Linked DNA regions of Homo sapiens. The protein of the gene in region 1 interacts with the protein of each later gene in a pairwise test. Each region holds a gene or a part of one and is shown on either strand. Other genes may lie near its edges.

What was found.
Region 2: the proteins of ZNF26 (region 1) and TRIM39 interact in binary tests that used the Homo sapiens proteins (3 or more experiments, as listed by UniProt).

What each region holds. Positions count from the first base shown.
Region 1 is NC_000012.12:132,988,273-132,993,772, reverse strand, and holds part of ZNF26 (zinc finger protein 26), read right to left. Parts: intron 1-5,500. UniProt on the Homo sapiens protein: May be involved in transcriptional regulation.
Region 2 is NC_000006.12:30,333,427-30,337,830, reverse strand, and holds part of TRIM39 (E3 ubiquitin-protein ligase TRIM39), read right to left. Parts: intron 2,087-4,404; coding exon 1,856-2,086; intron 1-1,855. Other genes in the region: TRIM39-RPP21 protein, read right to left, coding at 1,856-2,086.

The DNA.
Region 1 (5,500 bases):
GCAAAAAAACATAGGGCAACCACGCGCCGTGGCTCACGCCTGTAATCCCAGCACTCTGGGAGGCCGAGGGGGGTAGATCACCTGAGGTCAGGAATTCGAGATCAGCCTGGCCAGTATGGTGAAACCCCGTCTCTACTAAAAATACAAAAATCAGCCGGGCATGGTGGAGTGCACCTGTAGTCCCAGCTACTCGGGAGGCTGAGGCAGAAGAATCACTTGAACCCAACAGGCGGAGGTTGTAGTGAGCCAAGATCACACCACTGCACTCCAGCCTGGACTCCATCTCAAAAAAAAAAATAAAAACAAAAACAAAAACACAGACAGGGCAAGCATCAGAACCAGACATGATAGGGATGTTGAAGGTATCAGACAAAACTTAAAACAACCATGAATAATATGTTATGGGCTCTAGTGAATAAAGTAGGCAGCATGTAAGAACAGATGGGCAGGCCAGGCGTAGTGGCTCACACCTGTAATCCCAGCACTTTGAGAGGCTGAGGTGGGTAGATCACTTGAGGTCAGAAGTTCGAAACCAGCCTAACCAACATACTGAAACTCTGTCTCTACTAAAAATACAAAAATTAGCTAGGCACGGTGGTGCGCACCTGTAGTCCCAGCTACTCAGGAGGCTGAGGCACAAGAATGGCTTGAACCTGAGAGGTAGAGGCTGCAGTGAGCCCAGATCGCACCACTGCACTCCAGCCTGGGCAAGAAAGTGAGACTCCATCTCAAAAAAAAAAAAAAAGAAATACTAGTGATCAAAAACACTGTACAGAAGTGAAGAATGCCTTTGATGGGCTTATGTATTATGTAGACTGCACGAGATTGAGGAAAAAAATCTTTGAACTTAAGGATGTATCAACAGAAACCTTCAAGCAAAGAGAACACTGGGGAAAAAAAAAAAGAACAGAATATCCAAGATGGACAGCCACAAAAGGTGTAGATATGCACAATGGAAATACCCGAAGGAAAGGAAAAGAACAGAAGAAAGACAGTCGGTGCCTGACGCACAGTGGTTTGACTTAGTATTTTTCAATTTTACAATGGCGCAGAAGCAATACACTTCAGTACGTTCCCCAACTTATGATGAGGCTCCATCTGGATAAACCTATTATAAGTTGAACATATTGTAAGTCGAAAATGCACTTCTGACAAAGAGATTTTCAATTTATGATGAGTTTATCAGGATGTAACCACATCATCAAGTCAAGGAGCATCTATATATGAAACAATAATTACTGAAAATTTCGCTGAAGTAATGTCAGACACCAAATCACAGATGGAGGAAAATCCGAGAATACCAAGAAGATAAATGCCAAAAAACCTGCACGTAGGCATATCATTTTTAAAACACAAAAAATCAAAGATAAGCCAGAGATGAAAAAAAATACCTTACCTACAGAAACCACACAAGCAAGAAAATGGAGTGAAACAGTTAAGGTGTTTAGAGAAAAAAAAATCATCAAAACAGAATTCTGTACCCTGCAAAATTATCCTTCAAAAGTAAAAAAAAGTCTTTCTCAAACAAAAACTAAGATAATTTATTGCTATTTCAAGTAAACTTGCCTTAACTAGGCAGAAAAGGAAAATACAGGTCAGAAACACAGATACACTTTTTTTTTTTTGAGATAGGGTCTTACCCTGTTGCCCAGGCTGGAGTGCAGTGGCATGATCTTGGCTCACTGCAACCCCCGCCTCCTGGGTTCAAGCGATTCTCATACCTCAGCCTCCCAAGTAGCCAGGCCTACAGGCACGCACCACCATGCCCAGCTAATTTTTGTATTTGTAGTAGAGACAGGGTTTCACCATGTTGGCCAGGCTGGTCTCGAACTCCTGACCTCAAATGACCCGCCGGCCTCAGCCTCCCAGAGTGCTGGGATTACAGGGATGAGCCGCCAGGCCCGGCCACAGATATATATTTTAAAAAGTGAGAACATCAAAGAAAGAATAAGTGAAAGTAAAATTAAAATTTTTTTTCTGATCATTTTTTTGAGACGGTCTCGCTCTGTTGCCTAAGCTGGAGTACAGTGGCACAGCAGCCTCGAACTCCTGGGCTCACCTCACCATCTCACCTCCCAAGTAGCTGGGGCTACAGGTGCACACTAGCACACCTGGTTTTTTTTTTAGGTTTTTTTTTTTTTTGTTGTTGTTGTTGTTTTGTATAGGCAAGGTCTCTGCGTTGCCCAGGCTGGTCTCAAACTCCTGGCTTCAGTCTCCCAAAGTGCTGGGATTACAGGCATCAGCCACCATGCCTAGCTATTTTTATTTTGTTGTTGTTGTTGAGTCTCGCTCTGTCGCCCGGGCTGGAGTGCAGTGGCACGATCTTGGCTTACTGCAACCTCTGCTTCCTGAGTTCAAGCGATTCTCCTGCCTCAGCCTCCTGAGCAGCTGGGATTACAGGTGTGTGCCACCATGCCCGGCGCTAACTTTTGTATTTTTAGTAGTGACAGGGTTTCACCATGTTGATCAGGCTGGTCTTGAACATCTGACCTCGTGATTCACCCGCCTCGGCCTCCCAAAGTGCTGGGATTACAGGCCTGAGCCACCACGCCCAGCCATGCCTAGCTATTTTTCTTATACTTAGTTGACCTAGTCTGTTCAAAATAGTAATGGAGGCTGGGCACAGTGGCTCATGCCTGTAATCCCAGCACTTTGGGAGGCTGAGGTGGGTGGATCACTTGAGGTCAGGAGTTCGAGACCAGCCTGGCCAACATAGTGAAACCCTGTCTCTACTAAAAACGCAAAAATTAGCCGGGCATGGTGGCACACACCTGTACTTCCAGCTACTCGGGAGGCTGAGGCAGGAGAATCGCTTGAACCTGGGAGGCAGAGGTTGCAGTGAGCCATGATCATGCCACTGCACTCCAGCCTGGGTGACAGAGTGAGACTCTATCAAAAAAATAAAAAGAAAAAAGGACAATAAAGGAACATCATACTATGTACAATTCTACGTCCACACATTTCATGACCTAGATGAAACAGACCAAATCCCTGAAAGACACAATCTGCCAAAACTGAACAAAAAGAAACAGACACTCTAATAAGCCTAAATTGAATCAAAAATTAAGAATCACCCAAACCAGAAAGTGCCAGGCCAAGATGGGTTCACTCACTGGTGAAGTCTACCAAACATTTAAGGAAAAAAATCACACCAATCTTTTTTTCCCTCTACAATATTTTTCAGAAGATAAAGGCAGAGGGAATCCTAACTCAGTCTATAAAGACAGCATCGCTCTAATACCAAAACCAGACAGAAACCCTAGAAAACTACAGAAAAATTATCTCATAAATATAGATACAAAAATCCTCAACAAAATACTAGAAAATAAAATACAACAATGTATAAAAACAAGTGTACACCACAGCCAAGTGGGATTTATTCCTGGTATGTAAGGTTGGTTCAATACTTGAATCAGTTCCATCGTATCAAATGACTAAAGAAGAAAAAGCATAGATAGATGCAGAAAAAACTTTTTTTCTTTTTTGAGACAGGGTCTCGCTCTGTCACCCAGGCTGGAGTGCAGTGGTGCAAACATGGCTCACAGCAGCCTCAACCTCCCAGGCTCAAGCAATCCTTCCACTTCAGCCTCCTCAGTAGCTGAGACTACAGGCATGTGTCACCACGCCCAGCTATTTTGTTTTTTAATTTTTTGTAGAGATGGGGTCTCACTATGTTGCCCAGGCTGGTCCTGAATTCCTAGGCTAAAGCTATCCTCCTGCCTCAGCCTCCCAAAGTGATTACAGGTGTGAGCCACATCTGGCCCAGAAAAAAAATCTGACAAAATCCAACCCCATTCACAATTAACAACAACAAAAACCCTCACTAAACTAGGAACAAGGGTCTTTCTCAACTTGATAGAGAATATCTACCAAGAAAAATGCTACAACTAACATCATACTTAACTGTGAGAAACTTGAAGCTTTCCCACTAAGATCAACAAGGCAAAATGTATCTTTAATCCCCTCTCACCACTCTTTTTCAACATTGTACTGGAAGTCCTATCTGAGGCAAAAAAACAAGAACAGAAAATACAGGATGAGAATCCCTGTTCCAAAAACCTGAAATCTAAATGCTCCAAAATTCAAAACGTTTTGAGTCCTCACACGTGGAAAATCCCACACATTAACTTAATACAACCTTTGTTTCACACACAAAATTATTTAAAATACTGTATAAAATTACCTTCAGGCTGTACGTATAAAGTATATATGAAACATAAACAAATTCTGTGTTTAGACTTGGGTCCCATCCCCAAGATATCTTATGTATATGTAAATAGTCCAAGATCTGAAAAAATCCAAAATCCAAAACAATTCTGGTCTTAAGCATTTTGAATAAAAGATACTTAACCTGTAAAATGTATAATGACTGTGAAGGAAGGAATAAAACTTTGTTCACAGATGGCATAATTGTGCAAAGTCCAAAAGAATTCACCAGACCCGGCACGGTGGCTCATGGCTGTAATCCTAGCACTTTAGGAGGCCGAGGTGGGCTGATCACGAGGTCAGGAGATCGAGACCATCCTGCTAACACAGTGAAACTCCATTTCTACTAAAAATACAAAAAAATTAGATGGGCGTGGTGGCACATGCCTGTAGTACCAGCTACTCAGGAGGCTCAGGCAGGAGAATCGCTTGAACCCAGGAGGTGGAGGTTGCAGTGAGCCGAGATTGTGCCACTGCACTCCAGCCTGGCCAACAGCGAGACTCTGTCTCAAAAAAAAAAAAAAAAAAAAAAAAAAAATTCACCGAAAGACTCCTGGAACTACATGATTATACCAAGGTTGCAGGATACAAAGTTAATATACAAAAGTCAACCCCTTTCCTGTACACAGGTGTAAGCTGAATTTGAAATAAAAAACACAATACCATTTACAGTAGCACCCACAAAAATTAAATACTTAGGTGTAAGTCTAACAAAATATATAATGATACTATATAAAATCTATATGAGAAAAACTACCAAACACTGCTGAATGAAAACTAAGAACTAGATAGAGAGATATAACATGTTCATGGATAGGAAGACTCAATATTCAAGACTTCAGCTCTTCCCAACTTGATCTACAGATTGAATGCACTGTCAGTTAAAATCCCAGCAAGTTATTTTGCAGATGTTGACAAACTGATTATAAAGTTCAGACAGACAAAAGACTTAGATTAGCTAACAGGATACGGAAGCAGAAGAATACATTTGGGAGAATGAACCTGACTTCAAGACTTATAGGCTGGGCATGGTGGCTCACACCTGTTATCCCACCAATGCTTTGGGAGGCCAAGGAGGAAGAAGTGCTTGAGGCCAAGAGTTGCAGGCCAGCCAGGGCAACACAGTGAGACCCTATCTGTACAAAAAAAAAAAAAAATTTTTAATTAGCCTGATGTGGTGGCATATGCCTGTAATCCCAGCTACTCAGGAGGCTGAGGTGGAGGATCCCTTGAGCCCGGGAGTTCGAGGCTGCAGTGAGTTGTGACTGTTCCACTGCACTCCAACCTGGGCAAC
Region 2 (4,404 bases), on another chromosome or scaffold:
TATTGAAGAAGGTGCTATCCAGGGCTTTCACAGTTCGAGAGAAGTCAATGCCTGGCTTTAAAGCTTCAAAGGACAGGATGACTTTCTTATTAGAAGCAAGGGCAGCTGGTGACTTTAAGTTGAAACCAGTGCTCACTTACCATTTCAAAAATCCTAGGGCTCTTAAGAATTATGCTAAATCTACTTTCCTTGTGCTCTAGAAATGGAATAACAAAGCCTACATGACAGTACACCTGTATACAGCATGGTATACTGAATGTTTTTAATTAAAAAAAATTACCTTTTGTAGAGATGGGGTCCTGCTATATTGCCCAGACTGGTCTTGAATTCCTGGCCTTAAGCAGTCCTCCTGGCTTGATCTCTCAGAGTGCTGGGATTACAGATGTGAGCCAACGTGCCTAGCCTTTACTGAAGTTTTTTTTGGGGGGATGGAGTTTCACTCTTGTCACCCAGGCAGGAGTGCAACTGCATGATCTTGGCTCACTGCAACCTCTGCCTCTCGGGTTCAAGCGATTCTCCTCCCTCAGCCTCCCGAGTAGCTGGGATTACAGGCGCCCACCACCATGCCCAGCTAATTTTTTTGTATTTTTAGTAGAGATTGGGCTTCACCATGTTGGCCAGGCTGGTCTCAAACTCCTGACCTCAGGTGATCCACCTGCCTTGGCCTCCCAAAGTGATAGGATTACAGGTGTAAGCCACCGTGCCCAACCCTTTACTGAAAATTTTAAGTTGAGACCTACTGCTCAGAAAAAAAGATTCCTTTCAAAATATTACTGCTCACTGACAATGCACTTGATCACCCAAAAGTTCTGATAGAGATGTAAAATGAGATTCATGTTGTTTTCACGTCCGCTAACACAACATCCAATCGGCAGCCCATGGATCAAGAAGTAATTTGGACTTTCAAGTCTTAATAAATGTATTTCATAAAGCTGCTATAAATAGTGATTTTTCTGATAGATCTAGGCAAAGTAAATTGAAGGCTTTCTGGTAAGGATTCACCATTCTAGATGCCATTAAGAACATTTGTGATTTGTGAAAGGAAGCCAAAATATCAATATTAACAGGCATTTAGAAGAAGTCTATTCCAACCCTTATGGATGACTTTTAGGGGTTCAAGACTCCCATGTTGTAAGTAACTGCAAATGTGGGTTTTCAAAGATTTTCAAAGAAGTTCTACTGGTGAGTAAAATGCTATTAAACAGCATCACATGCTCAGAGATATCTTTCATAAAAGGAAGAGTTGAAAGTAAACTTCGTCGTTGTCTTATTTTAAGAAATTACCACAGTCACCCCAATCTTCAGCAACCACCACCTCGATCAGTCAATACTAACACAAGACCCTCCACCAGCAAAAATATGATTCCACTAGGAAACCCAACAATTAATGTGACTTGCTTTATCAAGATACTCGCTTTATTGAAGTGGTATGGAACTGAACCCACAATATCTCTGAGGTATGCCTGTATCCTTTAAACTATGTTTCTGTCCTTTTTCAGCAGTACATAAATCAAATTTCAGGACTTAAAAGTAATGGTAACTGCATTTACAAAATTTTTAATGCATAGTTTTTCACTAACTCAGGCTAGACTTCCCTCCTTTCAAAAGAATGAATCTTTTCTTTGGAACAGATTAAGCACATAATTGCTGACCAGAGATAAGAACACAAAAATGGTTAGAAGGGGATGGGAGAAATCACTTTTCCGTAGCAAAGACCCTTTGAGTACACCTGGCAGAAAGAACTGGATTTAGAGAAGGAGAGCAGAAGAATGAGTATCCCAGGCTGACAAATCCCAGGCTACGCAAAGCTACGCTGCACTCAGCCTGAGGGGCTATGCAGGGGCAAAGGTCGAACCTTAAGCATCTCGAAGCCTGACTGTAAGCACTTGCCCTCCACCTCGGCAGCCAAGTGGGCCAGGTCCCGGCGCTTGTCCCCAAGGTGAGCAGCATTTTCTCGGAGTCGCTGCAGAATGTCCTGTTCCTCTTCTTCCAGTCGTGAAAGCAACACCTGCTGCTCTTCATCCAGCCGCCTATGAAGCTCTTCAAACTCCCTCAAGATCTGCTGTCGGCGACTTTCCACTAGTCTCTGAGAAGAGAGGGAAGATGTTGTATCAGCAGGGTCAGTGTGGTATAAGGAAGCCTTTCTCTCACCCACCATATGTATGAATTAACACAGACTTCCAGTTTCATTGAAAATGGTTTAACAAAGGCTGGGTGTGGTGACACATGACTGTAATCCCAGGACTTTGGGAGGCCGAGGGAGGTGGATTGCTTGGGATGAGAAGTTTGAGACCAGCCTAGGTAACATGGTGAAACCCCAACTCTACAAAAAATACAAAAAATTAGCTGAGTCTGGTGGTGCATGCCTGTAGTCCCAGCTACTGGAGAGGCTGAGGTGGGATGATGGCTTGAGCAAAGAAGGCAGAGGTTGGAGTAAGCTGAAATTGTTGCACCATTGCACTCCAGCTTGGGCAACAGATCGAGATGAAAGACAGACAGACAGGAAAGAAAGACAGAAAGACAAAGACAGAAAGAAAAGAAAGAAAGAAAATGAGAGAAAATGGTTTAACAGAACACTCATTTTTTATTCCATTGGAATTTCCTTCTGTAAAGAATGGCTCCATCACTATCACCCCCCTACTGATGACTTGGTAGTGAAGACCACTGCGGATATATATATTTGTTTTAATTTAAGATAAAGAACTCAATAATATGATGACATTAACTATTACAGATATCAGAGATATCTGTGTTATTATCAACTGTAAAGTTCTAGTTAATTCAATCTGTCGAGAAAAGGAAAGTATAGGCTCAGCATGGTGGCTCATGCCTGTAAACTTAGTGCTTAGGAGGCCCAGGTGAGAGGATCACTTGAGGCCAAGACCAACCTAGGAAACATAGTGAGACCTTGTTTCAACTAAAAAGAAAAAAAAATTAGTCGGGCATGGCAATGCACATCTGCAGTCCTAGCTACTCAAAAAGAATCAAGAGGATGGATGGCCTGAACACTGGAGTTTGAGTTAGTGTGCTGTGATCACTACTGCCCTCCAGCCTGGGTGAGTGAGATTCTGTCTCAAAACAAGCAAACAAAAAACAACGAAACAAAAAGGAAAGTACAAATAATAAAAAGTTAAAAATAAGATTGTCATCCTTTGCATATTGCAACACATGCACCAGATAAAAACCAGAGAACTGGGAAAGTGTAAGAATCAGTAAGAGTTATATGGGTTATTATAAAATATACATATGTAGATTTCAGGGCTGAACTTGTTAAATTGTTTCAAGTCACTTCAGAGAACTGGCAATTCCTACCCCAGGAACAGGTTACAGAAGTTTGTTAGTAATTTAGTTTCTTGAAATTTGAAACATGCTTTCTTTAAGCCAGCACACAGACTTAAGCCTCTAACATTCCTGAAATTTGATAATATAGGACTCAAACACCAGCCATAACACTTTCTGAGAATTATCAGCACATCCTCTCTTCTGCATCTCCACTACAACAAATAGTGATCTCCCTAAAGAATTCCCCAAGCATCATGTGACTGATGATGAAGCAAAGTGAGAAGCAGAGACTGGGACTCTAGAAGGAAGTGGATAGGGAATGAAAGGCAGGCTTGAGGGTGGAGAGAGAGTGGGGATGCAAAGCCAGGATGGGCCTGACAAGCGTGGCATTTGTGGATTCAAGCTAGTTCCTGGCAGAGGCTGACTAGCTCTTCTAGTTTAGGGCCACTTGCTGCTTCACTTTCCACCACTGCCTTCTCAGTGTACATCTGAACAAAATATATTCTCACATTTGCCCTCAATAAAACACAGCCTTTGTGTGTGTGTGTTTGCACATGTGTGTGCATGCATGTGTGTTTGTTTAGGTATGGGTGTAAGTTTAACATTCATGACTGTGATAAATAGGAAGCAAAAAGGCCCTTCCTCTTATAAACCGGTAATCTTTTCTCTTTTTTTCACTCTATATTTTAGGGCAGTGGTTCTTGATGAAGCTGTTAACACACTCTGAGGATATTTTGGAAATAGGCACATCTTCTTGTTTTCCATGGTTGGGGAAGTTCCTGACAATGACGCAAGCACTCCTCCAATGTGTGAGACAATCCGGCATAGTGAACTGACCTGCAACATTTTCTAATGTTCTGCTGGATATTCAAAAACACAGGCCTGGGCGGCCAGGCACGGTGGCTCACGCCTGTAATCCCAGCACTTTGGGAGGCCGAGGTGGGCAGATCACAAGGTCAGGAGATCGAGACCATCCTGGATAACACGGTGAAACCCTGTCTCTACTAAAAATAGAAAAAAAAAATCAGCTGGGTGTGGTGGTGGGCGCCTGTAGTCCCAGGTACTTGGGAGGCTGAGGCAGGAGAATGGCATGAACCCGGGAGGCAGAGCTTGCAGTGAGCC